Linked DNA regions of Homo sapiens. The protein of the gene in region 2 interacts with the protein of the main gene of each other region in a pairwise test. Each region holds a gene or a part of one and is shown on either strand. Other genes may lie near its edges.

Region 1 (3,747 bases), on a different chromosome or scaffold from region 2:
TGCAAACTAGTCAAGAGCACCACTGTCAGCTCAAAGTAGAAAATGGCATCATCTCTGTTGACATCCACCCCTCAACCCTCACACCAACCCTGCCAACAGGCATTATCCCTCAAAAAGCTCTTGCACTGTCCCACCTCTCCTACTCCCGCCGGTTCAGGCACCATCCTCTCCTTCTGAATTACTCCAACAGTCTCTTTACCCAGTCACCCCTCCACTCTGCTCCAGAAGGACTCTTTTTTTTTTTTTTTTTTTTTGAGACGGAGTCTCGCTCTGTCTGGAGTGCAGTGGCACGATCTCGGCTTACTGCAACCTCCACCTCCAGGCCAGGTCAAGCGACTCTCCTACCTCAGCCTCCGGAGTGGCTGGGACTACAGGTGTGAGCCACTACACCAGCTAATTTTTTAATTTTTTTAGTAGAGACAGGGTTTCACCATGTTGGCCAGGCTGATCTCAAACTGCTGATCTCAAGTGATCTGCCGACCTCAGCCTCCCAAGTGCTGTGATTACAGGCATAAGCCACCGCGCCCAGCCAATTTTTTTTTTTTTCAGACAAGGTCTCACTCTGTCACCCAGGCTGGAGTGCAGTGGCATGATCATGGCTCACTGCAGCCTCGAACTCCTGGGTTCAAGTGATCCTCACACCTCAGCCTCCAGAGTAGCTGGGACTACAGGTGCGCATCACCACACATGGCTAATTTTTAAAAAAATTTTCTGTAGGCCGAGTGCGGTGGCTCACGTCTGTAATCCCAGCACTTTGGGAGGCCAAGGCGGGTTGATCATGAGGTCAGGAGATCGAGACCATCCTGGCTAACATGGTGAAACACCGTCTCTACTAAAAAATACAAAAAATTAGCTGGGCATGGTGGCGGGTGCCTCTAGTCTCAGCTACTCAGGAGGCTGAGGCAGAAGAATGGCGTGAACCCAGGAGGCGGAGCTTGCAGTGAGCTGAGGTCACACCACTGCACTCCAGCCTGAGCAACAGAGCGAGACTCCAACTCAAAAAAAAAAAAAAAAATTTGTAGAGATGAGGTCTTGCTACATTGCCCAGACTGGTCTCAAAATTCAGGCCTCAAGTGATCCTCCCTCCTTGGCCTCCCAAAGCACTGAGACTACAAGCATGAGCCACCGTGCCCAGACCCAGAAGGATCTAATATGCAAATCTCACTGTGTCATTTCAGCCTGCAAAGCATTCTTGTAACCCACAGGCAGAGTAGACTGCTGCCTACTTTGCATAATCCACACTATAGAATTTACCACAATATATTATTCATATTATTGTTTGCTCTGATTAAAACTCTCCGGTGACATACTTCATTGTTCTATCAATTAACAATTGTGAAATAACAGAATTACAGAAATTGAGAACAAATTAATGGCTGCCAGGGGTTAGGGAATAGAGAGGTAGGAATGGGCCTGACTATGAAGAGGTAACAAGAGTCTTGTGGAGATGGATAGTTGAGTGTCTTCACTGTGGTGGCAATTTTGAAAGTCTCCACATGACATCTTGCATAGAACTTCACATATATACACACAGGAGTTGCCTGTGTAGCTGGTGAAATCTGAATGAGCTCTATGGGTCATGCCAGTGTCACTTTCCTGGTTGACATTGTCCTGTGCTAGTGTAGGATGCTGGCACTGTAGGAGAGGGTTGATGGAGGGGTGCATAGGACTTCTCAGTATATTTCTTTGTAACTTCCTATGAATTATTTCAAAATATAAGCTCAAAAAATATTCACATCCTTCCTCCTGCCCCAAAAGAACACCTTTCCAATGTCTTCCTTGCAATTAAAACTCTTTACCTGACCATGGGCCTTACATGATTGAGCCCTGTCTATTCTGACTTTGTCACCTGCACTGGCCCCACAGCTCTTCCACCCACTGGCCTTCTCTCTCCTTGACTTGCTCCTGCCTTTCCTCCTGGTTCTTTGCACTGATTCAGGTTTGAGCTCAAATGTCACCCTCCAGAAGGGCCTTCCCAGACTGTGCTCTTCCTAGGATCATCCCTGCTGTATTTCTACACTCTTGACTGCAGTACCCATGCCTGAGATGATCTCGTCTACTCCTTTCTTTACCTGTTTACTGTTCCTCTCCCATCCCTAGAAAGGAAGCTCCAGGAGGGCAGTCACCTGCTTTGTTCACTGCTATGTTCCCCTTTTGTCACTCTACATAGCAGACAGCAAGTGCTCAAGAAATACTTGGACAACAAATCAATGAACCCTTAACTGGCCTGGAAACTACTGTTCTTTCAGTACAAGGGGACGATATGGATGGAGGCCTGGAGGCAGGACTACGCACATTTCTCGGAAGGCCAAGTCTCTGCAGAGCAAACTGCTGGCCTCCTCTGAGTCCTCAAGGCTGACCAGCCCCTCAGGTCAGTCCTGGCAGGAAGGCTGTGGCCACAGAGAGCAGGGACAGAGCTCCTTCCTCTGGGGGCCGTGGGTGTCCTGGGGGTAGCAGGTACCTTGAATTCATCCGAGATTTCTGACATGAAGGAGGAGATCTGCTTCATGAGGCGGTCGATGCTGCTCTCGCTGCCCGTCTTAAGGAGGGTGGTGATGGCCAGCGTGGCAATGCTGCGGTTTGAATCTGTGACCAGGTTCTCCAGATCCAGATTACAAGCTGTCACAGCTGACGGATGCTTCATGGCAACCTGTTTTGGGAGGACAGTGACAGAGAGGGCAGGAACCCAATGCTGTCACTACATTTGATGGTTTGGCCCAGTCAGAAGTCCTTTGGATGAGATCATCTCACCATCTAGAAGAAACTAACTGTGACCAGGGCTATTATCCTTCCCAGCCAGGTCAGAGGCTAGGACACACCTCCAGTTGGATCAGACAGCTTCCTCCAACCCCCAAGCTGGACTCTTACCTTATTGAGGGTACGAACAGCAGCATAGCGGAGAGCAGCCTTGGGTGAGCTGCAGAAAAGCTGGAGCACTGTGGGGAGATGGATGCCACATGTCAGGTTGCCTTCACTGCTGGGCAGCTGGGAAAACCGGGGGCTACTGTTCTGACTCAAACCCTCTGCTCAGCTCATTTCCCTGCTGACACCCCCATCCCAACCCAAGACACAGAGCTCCCCTCACCCTGCGCACCTGAGCCATGGACAGAGGCCATAATGTCTGTGAGCACCCAGGGGTTCCAGTGAGGGCTGTTATTCACTGGGCATCTGCTGTGTGCCAGGTGCTGTGCTATACAGTGGACATGCCTCACTTCTATAGCTTGCAGCCACCACTAGCCCACTTTACAGATAAGGAGACTGAGGCACAAAGGGGAAAGCAAACAAACTTTAGGTTGGCAGCCAGTAAGTGGCAGAACCAAGATTAAATTCCAAGACTGCCTGCACCTGCAGCCTAAGCCCTTAACCTCTGTGAAGTAATATTCCACTCCTCTCTCCTACTGTGTCTACAGGATCCAACAGAACTTCCCCCTTGGCACCAAGTGCTGAAGAACAAAGTCCTCTCTTAAACAAATGGTTTATTTCCTTTAACTAGATGAGAGCCATTCGGGTACCATATCCCTCCCTTGCCCTGGCTGCCCGGAAGCTCAGAGCTAAATTTGGCACTCAATCATAGGAGCGAAGATGACTACTGTTTTCTGGAATATCTATGTTCCTTTCTTCATAACTTGGCTTTTATTCTCTAATACTCAAAAAAAATTTTTCTTAATGCTTATTTTGAAGACCCTACTTTATTTACATCTTTCATTATTCTGGAAATATGGGGGATATAATAAGAATGAATGAATA
Region 2 (3,747 bases):
GCGGTCTCGGGTCACTGCAACCTCCACCTCCCAGGTTCAAGTGATTCTCCTGCCTCAGCCTCCCGAGTAGCTGGGATTACAGGCACCTGCCACCACCCCCGGCTAATTTTTTTGTATTTTTAGTAGAGATGGGGTTTCACCATGTTGGCCAGGCTGGTCTCAAACTCCTGACCTCGTGATCCGCCTGTCTCGGCCTTCCAAAGAGCTGGAATTACAGGCGTGAGCCACCGTGCCCGGCCGACACTGGGAATTTGAGGCTGCGGTGAACTATGATCACACCACTGTACTCCAGCCTGGGTGATAGAGCAAGACCCTGTCTCAAAACAAAAAAACAAACAAACAAAAAGTCACATTCATTGGTTCTTGCAGGGCTCAAAGTCTGGGCGGGGAGAAGGAACACTTATAAACAAACTAGTAAAGGCTGGGAATGGTGGTTCACGCCTGTATCCCAACACTTTGGGAGGCTGAGGTGGGAGGATCACTTGAGCCTAGGCGTTCAAGACCAGCCTGGGCAACATAGTGAGACCTTGATCATGATCACCCTCCTCCCCCTCCTCCTCCTCTTCCTTTCTTTTTCTCTTCTTCTTCTTCTTCTTTTTTTTTTTTTTGAAACAGATTCTCACTCCCATTGCCCAGGCTGGAGCACAGTGGCATGATCATGGCTCTGCAGCCTTGAACCCCCAGACTCGGGTGATTCTCCCACCTCAGCCTTCTGAGTAGCTGGGACTACAGGTCACACCACCCTACCTGGCTAATTTCTTTGTAGTTTTAGTAGAGACTAGATCTTACCATGTTGCCCAGGCTGGTCTGGAACTCCTGGGCTCAAGCCTTCTGCCCACCTCAGCCTCCCAAAGTGCTGGGATTACAGATGTGAGCCATTGAGCCCAGACTTGAGACCTTGTTTCTACAAAAATAAAAAAAATAAAAAAATAAAAAATTACCTGGGAGTGGTTGCATGCACCAGTGGTCCCAGCTACTCGGGAGACTGAGATGGGAGGATTGCCTGAGCCCAGGAGGTTGAGGCTGCAGTGAGCCCAGATCGAGTCACTGCACTCCAGCCTGGGCAACAGAGTGAGACCGTGTCTCAAACAAGCAATATTAGTAAAAATAATATTTAGAGATTGAAAAAAGTGCAATGAAAGAAAGAAATAGGAACTGAGAGAATGTGACAGGAGAGACCTATCAAGTCAGATATGGTGGCTGTCAGGAGGACCTTTTGGTAATTATATTTCAGCAGAGGCTTGAAGATAAGAAGACTTGATGCATTCAGTGAGGAAAACCCCATTCTGTAACCATCTAGGGTAAGTGACTGTGGTCCACAACATAAGAGGGCTTGAAGAGAAGAATAGGGAAGAAATTTTGAGTCAAAAATCTGGGTTCTATCCCCAGTCAACTAGCTGTATAGTCTTGAAAAGGTCACACAACCTCTGAGTCTCTCTTTGCTTAAAATGAGGGTCCATTATGCCTATCTTACAGGTGTGGGCTATATTAGATAATGGATGTGAAGGTGTCAAATGTAAAATACACGCACAGTGTTTTTACCGGTAAATGCATACGTAGCACTAACATATCACTGGGATGTGAATTTCCCACTTGCCAGTGTACCCTGAAATGAGAGCTTGTCTTAGTTAGACTTAGACCAAAGAAACCAAAACATGCTGCAAAGCCCGATGTCATTGGTGGAGCATTTGTGCTGCTGGGCGTCTGTCTTGCTTCTGATGGTGCCATATCTGTGACTTAGGAGAGCCTGGGGAGGTGTCTCCGGGCCCATGGTTGCCTTCTGCAAGTAGTGAGAGAGGAATGAGAAAGCCTCTTCACAGAGGGGTGTCCCCAGAACTGTCCTCATTTGCTCTTGCTTATAGACCCTGTCCCTGAGATCTAAAGGGTGACCTGACGTATTTGTCCTCATGGTACCTACCAGAGGTCAACAGACAAAAGTGGGCTTTGCTTGTGTTTGCTGCTGGCCCCAGGACAGCCTATAGACACTGGCGCACACCAAAGCCACAGGCCGGAGAGCAGGCAGGAAGCAGGACGAGGGCTGGTCTTGGGGCACCCTGAGGATGCAGAGTTCGGGGATGTAAGGGACTCGGGAAGGAGCCAAGGAGGAGAGAGGGAGAGGAGAAGTGGGGGAAGGAGAGGTGGGGTGAGGGCGGGAGGGGAGATGGGGGAGAACGAGCAAGAGGACGGGGCCCCGAGGAAAGGGAGGCCACGCGCGAGAGGGGGCCGCGGGGCGGCGCGGAGGCGGGGCGGCGGCGGCGGGCAGGCGGCGGGCGGCGCTGTCAGTGCGAGGCGGCGAGCGGAATGCAGCGGCCCGAGGCCTGGCCACGTCCGCACCCGGGGGAGGGGGCCGCGGCGGCCCAGGCCGGGGGCCCGGCGCCGCCTGCTCGAGCCGGGGAGCCCTCGGGGCTGCGGGTACGGAGCGGGCGGGCGCGGGGATCCCGGGCGGCGGGAGCTGGGCAGGGACAGAGCAGGGTTAGGGGGAGCAGCCAACTCAGAACTCGCGCGCCCGGCGGCTGGGAACTTTGTGTCACCCCTGACTGGCCCCAGGACCCGGGAGGAAAAGTTCGTCCCAGCGCCGACCGGAGAGGAGGCCTGTCCTGAGTCCGTCGGCGCGGGGCTGAAGTTCTGGGTCCGTTTGGAGTGGGGGTGGCGGGTGAGTTGCGATTCCGCGGGGAGGGTAAGGAGTGGCCTGTCCGTCCCAGACTCGGCTCCCATCACCGGTGGGTGATGGGCATGCTTCTGGAGTCTACCCGGGCCAGGGCCTGGGGGCGCGCTGATAGCGCAGGTCCAGCCCGGCCAGGGATCAGCTGGAAGAAGGAGGCTCGGCCCGCTGTCCCCCCCGGCCCAGGTTCTGTGATACACTCCGACTCGGGCTCTGGAGCAGTCAGTGCATGACAGAACTTGGGCCCGGAAGGACCTTCTGCACCCAACGGGCACAGCGCCCACTCGGGGCCTGCAGTGGAACATCTGCCTGGGAGTGGAGTGGGCACCTGGGTTGGCCCATGTGGCACAGGGCTGGGCAGAACCAGCTGTGGACCTTGAGGACTGGGGTTGCTGGGGCCTGAGGATGTATCCTAGGGCCAGCAGATCCCATAGACACAGGGTGTCCACCTCGAGTCAGGGGCCAAACGGAACTCTCCTCTCCGGTGTCAGTTGCAGGAACCTTCCCTCTACACCATCAAGGCTGTTTTCATCCTAGATAATGACGGGCGCCGGCTGCTGGCCAAGGTAACCTCTGACCCCACCCATGAGGGACACAGTTCCCACTCAGCTGACACTCCTGTCTCAGGAGAAACTCCACTGTGATCTCTGTGACTCAGGGCAGCTCAGCTTAGACCCCTCCAGAGGTCCTTCTCATCCTCCTGCCTTGTCAAGGTGCTGCTCCCTGAAATGAGGGGTCTCCTCTATTTCTACTCATGTTCCCTGAAATGTTTCCTTATCATCCTGCTACTGGCCAGTTGGACCTGGGCATGGGAAGGTTCTGCCTAATGGGTCAGTGGAGTGTTGAGCCTGGGACCCAGGAGTCTTAGTCCCCAAACCCCCACACAAGTTCTTTTGTTCTTTGGGGTTTGTCTCTAAACCTCCACTTTTGTTCTACAGCTTGGTAAACACTAACGATTTAGTCTAAGGAGTCTAAGGATTTAGAACCAGATGGGATTTTAGAAACTGTATAATCCAACTCTTTAATTTCGTAGATGAAGAAAATGAGGGGTAGAGAAGCTAAGTGAGTTGCCTGAGGTCACAAGT

The links. Proteins that work in one complex are often made in the same cells at the same time.
Region 1: the proteins of COPZ2 (region 2) and COPG1 interact in a two-hybrid assay, tested with the Homo sapiens proteins (2 studies listed by BioGRID).

What each region holds. Positions count from the first base shown.
Region 1 is NC_000003.12:129,259,522-129,263,268, reverse strand, and holds part of COPG1 (coatomer subunit gamma-1), read right to left. Parts: intron 2,937-3,747; coding exon 2,869-2,936; intron 2,651-2,868; coding exon 2,462-2,650; intron 1-2,461. UniProt on the Homo sapiens protein: The coatomer is a cytosolic protein complex that binds to dilysine motifs and reversibly associates with Golgi non-clathrin-coated vesicles, which further mediate biosynthetic protein transport from the ER, via the Golgi up to the trans Golgi network.
Region 2 is NC_000017.11:48,036,332-48,040,078, reverse strand, and holds the start of COPZ2 (coatomer subunit zeta-2), read left to right. Parts: upstream 1-2,281; 5' UTR 2,282-2,301; coding exon 2,302-2,412; intron 2,413-2,831; exon of another isoform or gene 2,832-2,918; intron 2,919-3,153; coding exon 3,154-3,228; intron 3,229-3,747. UniProt on the Homo sapiens protein: The coatomer is a cytosolic protein complex that binds to dilysine motifs and reversibly associates with Golgi non-clathrin-coated vesicles, which further mediate biosynthetic protein transport from the ER, via the Golgi up to the trans Golgi network.